Regions from separate parts of the Homo sapiens genome. Here region 1 is linked to region 2. Evidence: fine-mapped expression QTL. A gene starts in region 2. The other region holds a variant in brackets. All regions are shown on one strand. Distances are between the middles of the regions.

Region 1 (8,334 bases), 180 kb after region 2:
ACATTTATTAATAACAGATATCTGTAGAAAACTCTACCTATTAACAACTGAATACACATTCTTCTCAATTGCATGTGGAACATTCTCCCAGAAGACCATATGCTAGACATAAAATAAGGTTCAATAAAGTTAAAATAATTGAAATTATACAAAGCATGTCCTCCGAGCACAACACAATGAAATTAGACATTGATAACAGAAGGAAACTTGGGATATTCAAAAATATGTGCATATTAAGCAACACACTTATAAAAAGACAAAATCACAAGGGAAAATGGAAAATACTAAGAAATGGATGAAAATGCAAAAACAGCATACCAAAATTTATGAGATGCAACTAAAGAAGTGTTTGGAGTATTTCTTTTGATAGCTATAAACACCTATATTAAAACAGAAGAAAGATCTCAAATCAGTAACTTAAACTTCCATCCTAATAAACTGGAAAAAGAAGGACAAAGTAAACCTAAAGCAACAAGAAGTAAATAAATAACAATGATTAGAGCAAAAATTAATAAAATAGAGAACAGAAAATAATAGAGAAAAATCAACAAAACCAAAAATTGGTCTTTGAAAGATCAACAAAGTTGATAAATTTTAACTCACCAAGAAAAAAAAGAAGACCAAATTACTAAAATCAGGAAAGAGGGAACATAACTACCAACTTCACAGAAATAAAAAGAATTCTTAAGAATTATTAAATTCTAATATTAAAGAATACTATAAACAATTATATGTGAAGAAATTAATAAATGAAATGGGCCAATTCCTAGAAAGATACAATCTACCAAAACTGACTCAAGAAAAAAATAGAAAATCTGAATAAACCTATAACAAAAAAAGCAATTGAATCAGTAACTTATTATTATTATTTTTTTGAGACAGGCTTTCGTTCTGTCTCCAAGGCTGGAGTACAGTGGTGTGATCACAGCTTACTGCACCCTTGACTGCCTGGGTTCAAGAGATCCTCCAGCCTCAGCCTGCTGAGTAGCTGGGACCACAGGCAGGTGCCACCACACCTGCTAATTGTTTAAATTATTAGTAGAGATGAGGTCACATTATATTATCTAAGATGGTCTTCAACTTCTGGGCGTAAGCCATCCTCCCACTTCAGCCTCCCGAAGTGTTTAAGATCTTCTTTTTTATTTTTTATTTTTTGAGACGGAGTCTTGCTCTGTTGCCAGGCTGCAGTGCAGTGGCACGATCTCGGCTCACTGCAACCTCTGCCTCCTGGGTTCAAGCGATTCCCCTGCCTCAGCCTACAGAGTAGCTGGGACTACAGGTGTGCGCCACCACACCTGGCTAATTTTTTTGTATTTTAGTAGAGACGAGTTTTCACCATGTTGGCCAGGATGGTCTTGATATCCTGACCTCGAGATCTGCCTGCCTCAGCTTCCCAAAGTGCTGGGATTACAGGCATGAGCCACTGGGCCTGGCCAAGATCTTCTTAACAAAGAAAAGTGAGAACTGGATGGCTTCACTAGTGAATTTTCTTAAAAATTCAAATAAGAATTAATACTAATTCTTCACAAACTATTCCAAATAACGTAAGAAGAGGGATTACTTTCCAACTAATTCTATAAGGATAGTTACCCTGATAACCAAAACCAAAGTCATCACAAGAAAAACAGAAGCTACAGAACAATAACCAGTATCTGTTATGAGTATAGAGGTAAAATTTCTCAACAAAATATTAGGAAACTGAATCCAGCAACATATGAAAAAATTATACACTATAACAAAATGGAATTTGTTCCAGGAATGCAAGGTTGGCTTATCTCCAAAAATCAATTAATGTAACACACCATATCACACAATAAGAAACAAAACCACATGATTATCTCAATGGACATAGGAAAAACACTTAACAAAACTCAACACCCTTTCATAATAAAAACAGCAAACTAGGAATAGACTGACGCTCAATGTGATAAAGGACACACACAAAAAACCTAGAGCAATCATCATAACACTTAATGGTGAAAGACTAAAAGCTATGCACGTAAGACTGGGAACAAGACAAGAATGTCCACACTTCTTCTATTTACTTATTTTTTTTTGAGACAGGGTCTCACTCTGTTGCTCAGGCTGGAGTGCAGTGGCACAATCTTGGCTCAATGCAACCTCCACCTCCTAGTCTCAAGCATTCCTTCCACCTCAGCCTCCTGAGTAGCTGAGACTACAGGCATCTACCACCATAACTGGCTAATTTGTTTTTATTTTTATTATTTATTTTTATTTTTATTATTATATTTTTGAGACGGAGTCTCGCTGTGTCGCCCAGGCTGGGGTGCAGTGGCGCGATCTGAGCTCACTGCAAGCTCCGCCTCCCGGGTTCATGCCATTCTCCTGCCTCAGCCTCCCGAGTAGCTGGGACTACAGGTGCCCGCCACCACGCCTGGCTAATTTTTTGTATTTTAGTAGAGACAGGGTTTCACCGCGATAGCCAATATGGTCTCGATCTCCTGACCTCATGATCCACCTGCCTCGGCCTCCCAAAGTGCTGGGATTACAGGCGTGAGCCACCGCACCTGGCCTTGTTTTTATTTTTAATAGAGGTGGGGTTTCACTATGTTATCCAGGCTGGTCTCAAACTCCTAGGCTCAAGTGATCCACCTGCCTTGGCCTCCCAAAGTGCTGGGATTACAGGCATGAGCTACTGCACCCAGCCTCTTCTTCTATTTATCTTGGTACTGGAGGTTCTAGCCAATATGATCAGGTAACAAAAAGAAATAAAAGGCATCCAGATTGAAGAGGATAATATAAATCTAACTGTATTTTATTTTATTTTATTTTTTTTGAGACAGAGTCTCGCTCTGTTGCCCAGGCTGGAGTGCAGTGGTGCGATCTCGGCTCACTGCAAGCTCTGCCTCCTGGGTTCACGCCATTCTCCTGCCTCAGCCTCCTGAGTAGCTGGGACTACAGGTGCCCACCACCACACCTGGATAATTTTTTGTATTTTTTTTAGTAGAGACGGGGTTTCACTGCGTTGGCCAGGATGGTCTCCAACTCCTGACCTCGTGATCCGCCCGCCTCAGCCTCCCAAGGTGCTGGGATTACAGGCATGAGCCACCACACCTGGCCTCATTTTATTTGTTTTTTAATCTGTATTTTAAAATGACAGTCTTGGCTGGTCACAGTGGCTCACGCCTGTAATCCCAGCACTTTGGGAGGCCGAGGCGGGTGGATCACGAGGTCAGGAGATTGAGACCATCCTGGCTAACACAGTGAAACCCTGTCTCTACTAAAAATACAAAAAATTAGCTGGGCATGGTGGCGAGTGCCTGTAGTCCCAGCTACTCAGGAGGCTGAGGCAGGAGACTGGCATGAGCCCAGGAGGCGGAGCTTGCAGTCAGCCCAGATCGTGCCACTGCACTCCAGCCTGGGCAACAGAGCGAGACTCCATCTCAAAAAAAAAAAAAAAAAAAATGACAGTCTTATATGCAGGAAATCCTAAGGAATTCACCTAATAAACAAGTTCTGCAATACAATATCAACAATATGCAAAAATCAACTGCATTTCTCTATAGTAGAAGTGAATAATTCAAAAAGGAAACTAAGAAAACAATTTGTTTACAATAGCATTATAAAGAATAAAATATTTAAGAGTAAAAGAAGTGCAAAATGTATACTCTGAAAATGAGAAAGCAATTGAAGCTGCCTAAATAAATGAAAAGTTATCCCATGTTCATGGATTGGAAGGTTTAATACTGTTAACATGACAAAAACCACACAAACTGATTCACAGATTCAAGGCAATCGTTATCAAAATCTCAGCTGGCTTTCTTAAAGAAATTGACAAGTTGATCCTAAAATTCACATGAAAATGTAAGGGATCCAGAATAGCCAAGACACTCTTGAAAAAAAAAAAAGTTGTAAGACTCACACTTCCTTGTTTTAAAAGTTACTAAAAAACTACAGTAATGAAGACACTGTGATTATTGTCAAAGGATAGACAAATCAATCAATAGAATAGAATTTAAAATCCAGGAATAAACCCTTAAATTTTGGTCATTTGATTTTTGACAATTGTGCAAACAATTAAATGGGAGAAAAATAGTCTTTTCAACAAATGATGGTGGGATAACTGAATATCCACATGCAAAGAAATCAATTTGGACCACTTACATTAGACACAAAAATTAACCCAAAATGGATCATAAGCTAAAAAGTAAGAGTTTAAACTATAAAACTTCTAGAAGGAAATATAGGTGTAAATCTTCATGATCTTAGATTACACAAAGCCCTCTTAGACATGACACTAAAAACATATATAACATATAGTCTGGCACACAGTAAAACAAACAAAAACCATAC[G/A]TGACAACAACAAAATAAATTAGACCTCGTGAAAATTAAAAATTTTTATGCTGCAAATAATACCATCAAAAATATGAAAAGATTAAAAAAATGAAAAGATAATGCACAGAGTGGGAGAAAATATTTGCAAATAATCTAATAAGAGATGTATTTCCAGAATATATAAAGAGCTCTGGCCAGGCATGGTGGCTCACACCTATAATCTTAGCACTTTGGGAAGTCAAGGTGGGAAGATCACTTGAGCCCAGGAGTTGAAGATCAGCCTTGACATTATAGGAAGACCTAGTCTCTACAAAAACGAGAAAAACAAATTAGCTGGGTGTGGTGGCATATGCCTATGGGCCTAGCTACTCAGTAGGCTGAAGTGGAAGGATCGCTTGAGCCCAGGAGTTGGAGAGCTGTGATCATGCCATGCACTCCAGTCTGTGCAACAGAGCAAGATCTTGTCTTGAAGAAAAAAAAAAGAAAAGAGAGAACTCTTACAACTCAATGAAAAAAGACAACCCAATTTAAAAATGATTAAAGGATCTGAATAGATAGTTCTCCAAGAAGATATATAAATGGCCAATAAAAACACGAAAACATACCCAACATCATTAGTCATTAGGGAGATGTACATCAAAACTGTAATGAGATACCACTTCACAACCACTAGGATGGTTATGATAAAGAAGATGGGAAAAAAACCAAGTATTGGCAAGGACATTAAAAAAAACTGAAACCTTCACTGGGTATGGTGGCTTACACCTGTAATCTCAGCACTTTGGGAGGCTGAGGCAGGCAGATGGCTTCAGTCCAGGAGATTGAGACCAGCCTGGACAACATGGCAAAACCCCGGCGCTACAAAAAACACAAAATTTAGCAGGGTGTGGTGGCACATGCCTGTAGTCCCAGCTACTAGCGATGTTCAGAATAGAAAAACTCATAGCAACAGAAAATATATTATTGGTTGCCAGAGGTTGAGGAGAGTGGGGAGTAACTGCTAATGGATATGCAGTTACTTTCAGGGTGCTGAAAATACTCTGGATTTAGGTAGAGGTGATGGTTGCAAAACTTTGTGAAGATACTTAAAACTATCAAATTTTACACTTTAAATGAGTAAGTTGTATGGCATGTGAATTATCTTTTTTTAAAAAAATGAGACGGGATCTCACTGTGCATTGTGTTGCCCAGGGACGGAGTCTCGCTGGAGTGCAGTGGTGCAGTCTCAGAGGCTCACAGCAACCTCTGCCTCCTGGGTTTAAGCGATTCTCGTGCCTCAGCCTCCGGAGTAGCTGGGATTACAGGTGCCCGTATATTTTATAATATATTCCATAATTAATCGCTCCGTATTAAACTTGCTGATGCAGGTCTCCAATTACTGAAAAACCTGATACCAAGTTTTTCAATGGGATTTTTTTGTTTGTTTAAGAGATGGGGTCTCACCATGTTGCTCAGGCTGGCCTTGAACTCCTGGGCTCAAGTGATCCTCCAGCCTCAGCCTCTCAAAGGCTGGGACTACAGGCATGTAGCACTTTGCCTGACTCAAGGGGAATTTTTAGTAAGAGTATATAATCCAAGTCTGTAGCAGTTGGAGGATGTCGTACCACGCTGAAGTGTCACACATAACTGATGACTCAGTCCCCCAAGCCTATTTTATCATCGTAAAGAAAGCTATTTCTTTGATTATTCCAACTCTTTCAGCACCAGGACTGCTGCAGGGGCTGGATTCATGCTACCTGTAGTTGCAGTGTAAATTATGTGTCAGAGCCAAGATCCTAGGAAAGTCAAAGACTAGGTTACAAGAGCGATTCTTTTTTTTTTTTTTTTTTTTTTTTTTTGAGACAGAGTCTTGCTCTGTCGCCCAGGCTGGAGTGCAGTGGCACAGTCTTGGCTCACTGCAACCTCCGCCTCCCTGGTTCACGCCATTCTCCTGCCTTAGCCTCCCGAGTAGCTGGGACTACAGGCGCCCGCCACCACGCCCGGCTAATTTTTTGTGTTTTTAGTAGAGACGGGGTTTCACCGTGTTAGCCAGGATGGTCTCGATCTCCTGACCTTGTGATCCGCCCGCCTCGGCCTCCCAAAGTGCTGGGATTACAGGCTTGAGCCACCGCGCCCGGCCAAGGACGATTCTTTCTAATCTTTGGTAAGCCAGTTTTTACAGAATGAAATGCTCTTGGATTGACTGACTTGATTGGGTAAGTATTCATTGGGCTCTTGTTCCATGCAAGGGCAGTCTACAAGGGCCTAGATATGGGGGCCCCCAAAGAAGAAAAATCGGTTTTTCATCATATTTTCTGGTTGAGTTTCTTCCTTTATTATATTTGTTACATATGTTATTAAATTATTTCCATAAAAGAGGTTATGCTGAGCAGGTAACCAAATTCTTGTTCCCCCAAAAGACATGTATAATTCAGACGATTTATGCAATTAGAAGAAGGGAGACTTCATCAGTTAATAAAGTCTAGAACGTGAGGAAGCCCAGTCATTTCCAGGACCTTCAGATGCCCAAGCTGGATCCAGGTTTTCCACCCCGACAGCTCCAGGGAGCACGCTGGAGAGACAGACTTCACCAGCGGGAAGGCGCGGCACCCTACGCGCAAGGAACCTCAAGTCCCAGAATCCTATGAGGACTCCAAATCCCAGAAACCTGCACGCAAATCTATCCCGGGTGCCAAGTCGGCCGACCGCAGACGTGACCAAGTTGCGAGGCTAGGGTGAGGTGTCGTAGAATTTGTCCCTACCATTGTCCCTGCAGGGAAGAGACTTTAGTGATCTAGAGCTGGTCATTGTCTCTTTCACAGCTCGCGTGAAAGCACCCCTCTCGGCGTGTTTGATGCCATGATCAGCGTCTCCCATTCCCTCTGTCCCCTTTCTCTGCCCCCGTAAGGATGGTTCAGCCCGGTATTGAGGCTCCTTGAGCTGGCTGGATGGTTGCGCCCGCCCTACCCCGGAATGTGGGCCTTTGGAGCGAGCGAAGTGGGAGGGACCGACGCAGGAGGTGTCTTGGGCCCGGGCGGCTGTAGAGGCGGCGGCGCCTACGGGCAGTGGGAGGAGCCGCGCGGTTCCGGCTGCTCCGGCGAGGCGACCCTTGGGTCGGCGCTGCGGGCGAGGTGGGCAGGTAGGTGGGCGGACGGCCGCGGTTCTCCGGCAAGCGCAGGCGGCGGAGTCCCCCACGGCGCCCGAAGCGCCCCCCCGCACCCCCGGCCTCCAGCGTTGAGGCGGGGGAGTGAGGAGATGCCGACCCAGAGGGACAGCAGCACCATGTCCCACACGGTCGCAGGCGGCGGCAGCGGGGACCATTCCCACCAGGTCCGGGTGAAAGCCTACTACCGCGGGTGAGTGTCCTGGGACAGGGCGGTGGGCGGGAGGGGACAGGCCGGCTCCACTCGGCCTGGAGGAGGGGAGGGTGAGGGGCTGGAGGTGTTGTGGGCGGATTGGGCTGGGCGGGCGGGCGGCTCCGGTGACTCAGGGTGAGTGACGAAGTGATAGGGGTGGGGGCGAAGCAAGGGGATGCAGTACTGGGGGCGCCCCCAGGTATGGCGGTGCGGGGAGCCGAGGGGCCAGAGTAGGGTCCGAGAAGGAAGCTAGGGTTAGAGTAGGTGCACCTGGTGTGGACGAGAGACTCGCCTCCTGAGAGCTTTGTAGGGGCCTTGCATCCTTAAGTCTGGGTGTATTTGGGGTTGCGAGTTGAGGATTCCAAGTGATGCCTTAGTTAACTCAGTTTGCTGTGGGGATAGAAAACGGGACTTCTTCAGTTAGCTGTCCGTTTTGATTACCAGCAGGCCTAACGCCTCTGGTTCTCTGAGATATACCTCCATCCCCGTTGTGTTCACGTAGTGTATCTGCACTGCCAGTATATTAGACATAGGGGTTGTATTTAAGAATCAAGTCGATGCGTTTTCAGGGACGTGCAGTGGGTACTTACGTGTCGTCAAGATTAAGTTGCATGTGTGTAAATCAAAATTTTGTGAGCCTTTCTTTCTCAGTGTTGTTTCAACGACTACCCGATAGGGTGAGATACTGCAAGGTGAGGAGACT
Region 2 (8,334 bases):
GCCTCTGATTAGGCTCTTTCATTTATACTAGCCAGTGACTAATGGGTGACTTTGAATAGAATGGGAGGCAGGTTTGCCCTAAGCAGTTCCCAGCTTGACTTTTCCTTTTAGCTTAGTGATTTGGGGGCCTCAAGATATTTTCCTTTCACATAATATAGTTAGAACACAGGCCTATGTCCTGTTTATAATGTGGTATCTTATTGCCACAAAGAGTCTATTCTGTCAGCCTTATGATCTCTATTTTAACATTAATGCTGGTCAGTTGTGTCTAAACCATAAAAGGGAGGGGTATAATGAGATGTGGTTGACCTCCCATCTTGTCATGGCCAGGAACTCAGTTTAAGGCTTTTCTGGGGTCCCCTTGGCCAAGAGAGGTTCTTTTCAGTCGGTGGGGGGCTTAGGATTTTATTTTTAGGTGACAAGGCTTTTCTTTGGGAACAATAGTATATCTAGTGGGATTATATTCAATTCCATGGAACAAACCCTGACCTTAAACAAGTAAGGGGGTTGCTTTTCTCGTGTAGTAAGACATCTGGAGCTAGGCACAGCTAGGTGGGTGCGGCTCCACCTTTATTGTGGGCTGTCCCAGAGTCTAAGACTACTGCTCCACCTCCAGCCTCAAGGCAACCTCACAGCAACCTCAAAGCAGGAAGGAAACAGGAGGCTGAGAAAAGGGGTAGTACCCGCAACAGGAAAGCAAAAACCTTCCCAGGACTTGCCAGCTGACGTCCTCCTATATCTCAATGGCCAGAATTGTGTCACGGGACCATTTCCTCCTACATCTCATTGGCCAGAACCATGTCATGTGATCACCCCTGCGATGACCTCGCGAAAGTGGGCATCTTAGCTTGGCACATTGCCTCCCTGTACAAAATCTGGGTTCTCTTAGAAGTTAAGAAGGCGAGAATGGATTTGAGGAGGCAGTTAGCAGTGCCCCGTAAAGAACTGACGGATCAGGGATGTCGGGAGAGGAGAAGCCGCCTCGGAAGTACCACTGGACTCTGGATTTCTAGGAGCTCTGGGCACCACTGTTGATGCATTTTGCTACAAGGAGGCAGGGAAAGATAGTCTTTGTTCCACGAAGCTCTGGGCTTAGCTTCAGTTCTATTACAGCCCCTTAATGACAGGGATACATTCTGAGAAATGCGTCTTTAGGCAATTTCATTTTGTGAACATGGAGTGTACTTACACAAACTTAGATGGTATAGCCTACTACACACCTAAGTTATATGGTATAGCCTATTGCTTCTAGGCTGCAAACTTCCACAGCATGTGACTGTACTGAATACTGTAGGCAACTGTACTGAATACTGTAGACAACGGTAAGAATTTATGTCTCTAAACATAGAAGAGGCACAGTAAAAATACAATATAAAAGATAAAAACGGTATACCCGTATAGAGCACTTACCATGAATGGAGCTTGCAGGGCTGGAAGTTGCTGTGGGTGAGTGAATGAAAAGGCCTAGGATATTACTGTCCACTACCGCAGACTTTATAAACACTACATTTAGGCTACACTAACAATAAGTTAATCTTGGCTTACTGTAACTTTTTTACTTTGTAAACTTTAAATTTTTTTTTAACTTTTTGACTCTTTTGTAATAATACGCCTTAAAACACAAATACGTTTCAGCTGTACAAAAATATTTTCTTCTATTCTTATTCTATAAGCTTATTTTTCCCATTTTGAAAATGCATTTATTTACCTTTTAAACTTTTTTTCTTAAAAACAAAGGTGCAGGCCTACACAGGGTCAGTATCATCAAGATATCACTAGGTGATAGGAATTTGTCAGCTCCATTCTAACCTTGTGAGGCCACTGTTGTAGATGTGATCCATTGTTAACCAGAATGTCATTGCAGCACATGACTTTATTACAGAAGAAGGAAAGAATGGACAGTGGGGAGCAACCAAGGTCTCTGTCTGCCACAGTTCCTCCACCAGCCCCTGAGACAGAGTTCCCCTCAGGAGGAGTCTGGTATGCGGACCCATGTACACATCATCTCTAGACAGAGAGACTTCAGGGCAGTTGTTGACATCGGCTTAAGAAATGGTGGGAGAGTGGCAGGCACTTGGGGATGCTGAAAGTATTTGAAGATAAATCCAGCCTCCCAGATCCGCCTGGAGAGAGGCATTGACAGGGCAGCCTGGCTGCTCAGAGCTACCCTACCCCAGCCTTGTCACTAGCAATATGTCTCTCCTTCCTGGGTCTCAGTCTCATTTTCCTCTTCTTTTTTTTTTTTTTTTTTTTTTTTGAGACAGAGTCTCGCTCTTGTCGCCCAGGCTGGAGTGCAATGGTGTGATCTCAGCTCACTGCAACCTCCGCTTCCCAGGTTCAAGTGATTCTCCTGCCTCAGCTTCCTGAGTAGCTGGGATTACAGGCGCCCGCCACCATGCCTGGCTAATTTTTGTATTTTTAGTAGAGACGGGGTTTCACCATGTTGGCCAGGCTGGTCTCAAACTTCTGACCTCATGCAGTCTGCCCACCTCAGCCTCCCAAAGTGCTGAGATTACAGGTGTGAGCCACTGTGCCCGGCTCTCATTTTCCTCTTCTATAAAGGAGAGTAATAACCCTACCTTGCAGGGTTGGCGTGAGGCTCGTTTGAAGTTATGTATGTCCAGCTCCTGTTCTATACTATCCACTCCCTAGATGATGGTTATTTTTGTTATGAGTATGATTTGGCCCCCATGCCCTCTGCTCTAACTCAACTCCCATCCTCTCCCTCTCAGGTCTTCTGACCCACTTGCCATTCCCTTATTAGAACATGAACTCTCTGCCTGGCTTTCCACTTCCCACTTTGCACACGTTGGAATCTTGGCGGAAGCACCTCACATCCCGTTGAACCCGGTACTCCTCTGTGATTCAGTTGGCCTCTGCACTTCTCCAGGAAGTTCTCTCTGCCACTCCAGGCCAGGTGAAGCTGCTCCTCAGTCTCCCTAGCAACCCACACTTAATTCTATCAGGGTTCTTCTTGCACCCTTGGGCAATTACTGAGTTCCTTGCAAGGCTAGTCCAGACTCTCAGTGTATAAACCACCCTTGAGGTAACTAATTCCATCTTAGAAAAACCCTCCATTTTATATTTCATGGGCACTTTGCTAACAAGGATAAGATGTTTTGCTTGACGAACAAATTTTAAAAAAGAACACAAACAAGCACACTCATCCACTATAAGTTCTCACCAGAGGACCCTCTGACTGTAAAAGAGCGAAGCCTTCAGCTTGGCTGTCTTCACTAACACCGTCTTGCAGTCACTCATGATAAGAACTCAGAATTTGCCACCGAAAGCTCTGCCACATCAAAGACTCTTCCTTGCAAGACCACCAGGCCCAGACCAGGACTCCCTTTGTCTTCTTCCCTCCCTTTGGACTGGTTCATTAACCCTTTCTCCTCTTCTTCGTCTTGATGTTAAATATTACTTTGTTGTGGAATGTTTAATCTACAACATTCGTATAGTGATTAAGTATACTAGTATGTATGGTTTGCAATATTTACTGACTTATGGAGTGGCTTGAACCTATGTGCTCTGACTACAGAGTGAATGGGAAGGACTAAGGAGAATTGCCTCCTTGGGAACTCCATGTAGCTCCTGGATTTTGTGATTGAAATAGCATTTAAAAAAAAAAAAAGACTGACATTGTGGAGAGATACAAACGTGTATGGACATGGTCATCTTTAATCTCTAACTGCTATGACACTCAGAGAGGTTGAGAGGCTCAGGACACTCCCCTTGTTCAAGGCTCTGCGTGAAGAGGAGAAGGAAGAAATTGTGCAATATTTTATTTTATTTTATTTGTTTCAGATGAAGTCTGTCTCTGTTGCCCAGGCTGGAGTGTAATGGCGTGATCTTGGTTCACTGCAACCTCTGCCTCCTGGGTTCAAGTCATTCTCCTGCCTCAGCCTCCCAAGTAGCTGGGACTACAGGCATGTGCCATTACGCCCAACTAATTTTTGTATTTTTAGTAGAGGCAGGGTTTCACCATGTTGGCCAGGCTGGTCTTGAACTCGTGACCTCAAGTGATCCACCCGCCTCGGCCTCCCAAAGTGCTGGGATTACAGGCTTGAGCCACTGCGCTGGCCTAATTGTTCGATATTTTAAATGTTTAAATGACCGGCAAGTCGTAGGTGCTCAACAAATATTTGTTGAATGACAACAAATTAGCACTGTTGACACAAAAAAGGCAATGCAATATATGGGCTATTTAATATTTGCAGATTTTTATTTAAAAATCTGAATTCACAGTACACTGCAGGCGGTTGCTTAGAAGCATACAAGTTTCAAGAAGTTCTGTCACCCTGTGTATACTCTTTTTTTTTTTTTTTTTTTTTTTTTTTTTTTTTTTTGATACGGAGTCTTGCTGTTGCTGCCCAGGCTGGAGTGCAGTGGTGCGGTCTTAGCTCACTGCAACCTCCGCCTCCTGGGTTCAAGCGATTCTCGTGCCTCAGCTTCCCAAATAGCTGGGATTACAGGTGCGTGCCACCAAGCCCGGCTAATTTTTGTATTTTTAGTAGACATGGGGACCAACGTGGACCATGTTGGCCAGGCTGGTCTCAAACTCCTGACCTCAAGTGATCCGCCCACCTTGACCTCCCAAAGTGCTAGGATTACAGGCATGAGCCACCGCCTGGCCACCCTGTGTAAACTCTTATCTGGAGACAACTGCCAAGTTTACATTTGCAGAGGTAAGGGAAGGAGAGGCCCTGACCCAGTGGCCCCCGCTCGCCCGCCTGCTGGGGAGATGGGGAGCTCCTAGGACAGGGGCCGGGTCCTCAAGATGTGGCATGAGGAAGGGGGTCTCACTGAGCCCCCAAGCGGCTCCCGCACTGCGCACCCCTGGCTGCGTCCCTCTGCCAGCCTCAACTCAGCCCTCTCCTAGCCGGCGGGGGGTGACAGTCTCTGTGATATCTTTCCGTCCCGCCGGCAGGCGGCGCCCTCCGGCCCTTGTTTCGTTGGGCCCGGACGGGACGTGCGCGCTCAAAGGTTGCCCGTCTCTGACGCCCGCATTTCCTGGTCTGGAGCCGGCTGAGCCACAGCAGGGTCGCCGCGGGGTCCCGGGGCCGTGCTCCCCTGCCCCTCCCGGGAGCGCGCGGGGCGGGGCGGGGCGGGGCGGGACCAGGCGGGCGAGCTGGGCCCTCGCCCCTCCCTCGGGCGGTCACCTGGGCACGGGCGCTGCAGGTGTCGGGGCCTCAACCTTGCGGAGCCGACAGCCATCGATCCTCGGGTGAGTGCGGGCGCAGGTGGAGGGCGCCCGGCGCTCTCGCCACCGGCGTCCCAGCCTCGGGGCGGCGAACGGTCCCCGCGCCGCTCCCAGCCTCCCTGGCCGGGCGTTCAGCGCGCCTGGGAGGGGAAGGAATTTCCTTTGCAGGAACTCAGGGGCTGGGGGTTCTCTGCTACTTAAGAGATCCAGGAGTGGAGCCCGGACGCCCGAGCCTTCCTGCTTCGGGATGGGGATTACCGCGGAGCCTTAGCAACTGGGGTCTGTCGTGGGTTTGAGGGCAGGGGGTCTGGGGAATGGGCGTGTCCCGCACCCAGAGACTCGCCACCCTCTCTCCAGGGGAGATGCTTTTTAAACATGACAAACCCAGCAAGGTTATAGAAATGGGTGTATGCAACTCTTCGCTCTTTCCTGGCGCCCAGAGGTGAATAGTCTCACACACACGCGCGCGCGCGCGCGTGCGTGCATTCATTGGGGCCGACTTTGCCTCCCCTCCCCTGGCCTCGAGCGTTGGGGACGGCGCCCCCGCCCGCGCCCGCCACTGGGATTAAGCCCCAGGGCCTTGCCCGGCTATTTGTTTTCCGAGGCCGTTGCGTCCGGGTAGGTTCCTGGATGACCATCCTGGCTGGCTCAAAATTCCCTCTAGATTACCTGCGACCACCCCCAGGAACCCGGAGACTGAAACTCCTTTTCTCACCTGCGCAGGTGGCCTCGAGGTGGTGGCAGGGCCGCCCCCTGCAGTCCGGAGACGAACGCACGGACCGGGCCTCCGGAGGCAGGTTCGGCTGGAAGGAACCGCTCTCGCTTCGTCCTACACTTGCGCAAATGTCTCCGGTAAGGGGAAGTGTCGCTTAAATCCCAGAGATAACCCCCACCGAGAAGCATCACAAAAGACATGAACGAGTGTTTAGCTCTCAGGATTGTTATTGCTTCGAGTGAAATGGTTTCTTGTGTGCTTTTGTGCATTTATATATAAATATAAACATATATGTATACATTTGACAAGCTCTAAGACCGGCACTTGTGATATCTCCAGAATAGAGTTATTATAGTTATTTGGAAATTGTCAGTGAGGATCAGCTTGGTTGCTATGCGAATTGCAGGGAGGAGGACCTGTGTGCAGTTTCAAAACGATTTAAGAGAAATTCGGTGGCAATACAAGGTGTGGACGTTGGTTGGATCCTGATTTGATGAATGTTTTTTAAAATGGAGATGATGCCCGAGTGCGGTGGCTCACACCTGTAATCCCAGCACTTTGGGAGGCCGAGGTGGGTGGATCACCTGAGGTCAGGGGTTCGAGACCAGCCTGGCCAACATGGTGAAACCCTTCTCTACTAAAAATACAAAAATTAGCTGGGTGTGGTGACACGCGCCTGTAATCCCGGCTACTCGGGAAGGCTGAGGTAGGAGAATCGCTTGAACCCGGGAGGCGGAGGTTGCAGTAAGCCGAGATGGCGCCACTGCACTCCAGCCTGGGAGGCAGAGCGAGACTCCGTCTCAAAATAAATAAATAAATAAGGAGACGATGAAGGACATTTCTACTGATTATTTGATGGTATCAAGGAAATTATAATAGTTCTGTTTAGTTACTTTTGGTAACGGTATCCTGATTAAGGTTTTTAAAATCCCTGTAGAGACACAGACTGAAGTTGAAATACAGCTTTGGGATTTGCTTCAGAATTATTCAGTTTTAGATGCTAGCAGAGAAGGGAGGGGAACAAGATGAGAGGAGATTGTTCATGGATTGTTAATAGTTGAAGCTGGGAAGAACACATGGACACAGGCAGGGGAACTTCAGGCACGGGGGCCTGTCGGAGGGTGGGGGGAAAGGGGAGGGAGAGCACTAGGACAAATACCTAATGCATGCAGGGCTTAAAACCTAGATGACGGGTTGATAGGTGCAGCAAAACACCATGGCACATGTATACCTATTAACAAACCTGCACATTCAGCACCTGTATCCCAGAACTTAAAGTAAAACAAAAATAAAAATAGTTGAAGCTGGATGATGGTTATGGAAGTCCTTATGCTATTGTTTCAGTATTTGTGTGTGTTTGGCATTTTCCTTTAAACAGAACACCACCACTTGTGGAGCTTTTTTGCATAAGGTAGGTTTGGCACTGCAGCCGAGTCTAGATGCAAGGTCTTCCGCAGACGCTCGTTCTTTGTAAATTGGGTGTCAAGGCTGCTTCTCCAGACTCGGTCATAAAAAGTTTTTTTCTCCCTACTGGAGGTGCCGATTTATTTTGCTCAGAAGGCAGAGGGTGTTTGCTGAGTGTGACAAAGCTGAGCGGATCAAGTTGATGCAGGTGGAGGCTAGGTCAGCTTTTTTTACACAAAGGGCATTAGCAAGCCTGGGGGTTGATTGCCTCCGGTCGGGCGGATTGTATAAAACGTGTTAGCAGTTTTTCCTAATTGCCCAAATCCCTTCCAAGTTGTGTTCATCAAAAAACAGAGTTTGCAGTAGTGAACACACGTGTCGGTATGCACTTAGGATTTATGTACACTTCTGAAAGCATTGCATGCCTCAGTAAAAAGTGTATATGATGAAAACAAAGCACAAGATGAGTAGAGGGCTGCTTATTGCTTGAGAGAGAGCTTAGCTGTGTTGTGTTGCCTATTTCATCTTTATCTTGTTTGCTTCAGCGATCATGACATGTAAATATTTAGCAAAGCACTGACTCCTAAAAGTTCTGCATGGTGGTAACACATTTTTTTTAAGAATCATGCTTGAAAGAGGGTAAGGAAGGAGTAATAGCTATATCTTCATCAGGCTTGCTCCAGATTTCTTTTCTCCAGATTTAGCCTATAATTCCTACTCATTCTGTCATGCTTGGTCAGTACTTTGGAATAGTGATTCTGAGAGGGAGCTGTTGAAGTTAGTAGAGGGAGGAAGGGGAGGTATATTTCCAAAAGGTAAATCCACATTTTTTAGTCGCTTCAGTATAACTGAATGTAATGCCTTTTGATTTAAAGATAAAACAAGTCAAAGAGATGAGATCTGGGACAGTTAAAAGTTGAAGTGTTCGGTGAATCTCCCCGGCGTAGACCTTGCTCGTGTAGATTCACTAGTCTAAAGGATGTAAAGATTTTTTTTTTTTTTTTTTTTTGAGACG

Evidence for each region. PIP is the estimated chance that this variant, and not a neighbour inherited with it, causes the effect.
Region 1: its variant is fine-mapped to the expression of GPR160 in whole blood (TOPMed, PIP above 0.99).

The regions. Positions count from the first base shown.
Region 1 is chr3:170,215,140-170,223,473 of GRCh38, forward strand. PRKCI (protein kinase C iota) reads left to right here and starts at 7,285. Exons shown (of 18, transcript NM_002740.6): 1 at 7,285-7,631. The coding sequence starts at 7,531. RefSeq lists enhancers at 6,816-6,875, 6,946-7,005, 7,016-7,175 and a silencer at 7,356-7,645. The variant G/A (reference allele first, on the strand shown) is at 4,315.
Region 2 is chr3:170,032,992-170,041,325 of GRCh38, forward strand. GPR160 (G protein-coupled receptor 160) reads left to right here and starts at 5,004. Exons shown (of 4, transcript NM_014373.3): 1 at 5,004-5,224; 2 at 5,924-6,052. RefSeq lists silencers at 4,979-5,458, 5,769-5,818, 5,979-6,028 and an enhancer at 5,884-6,383.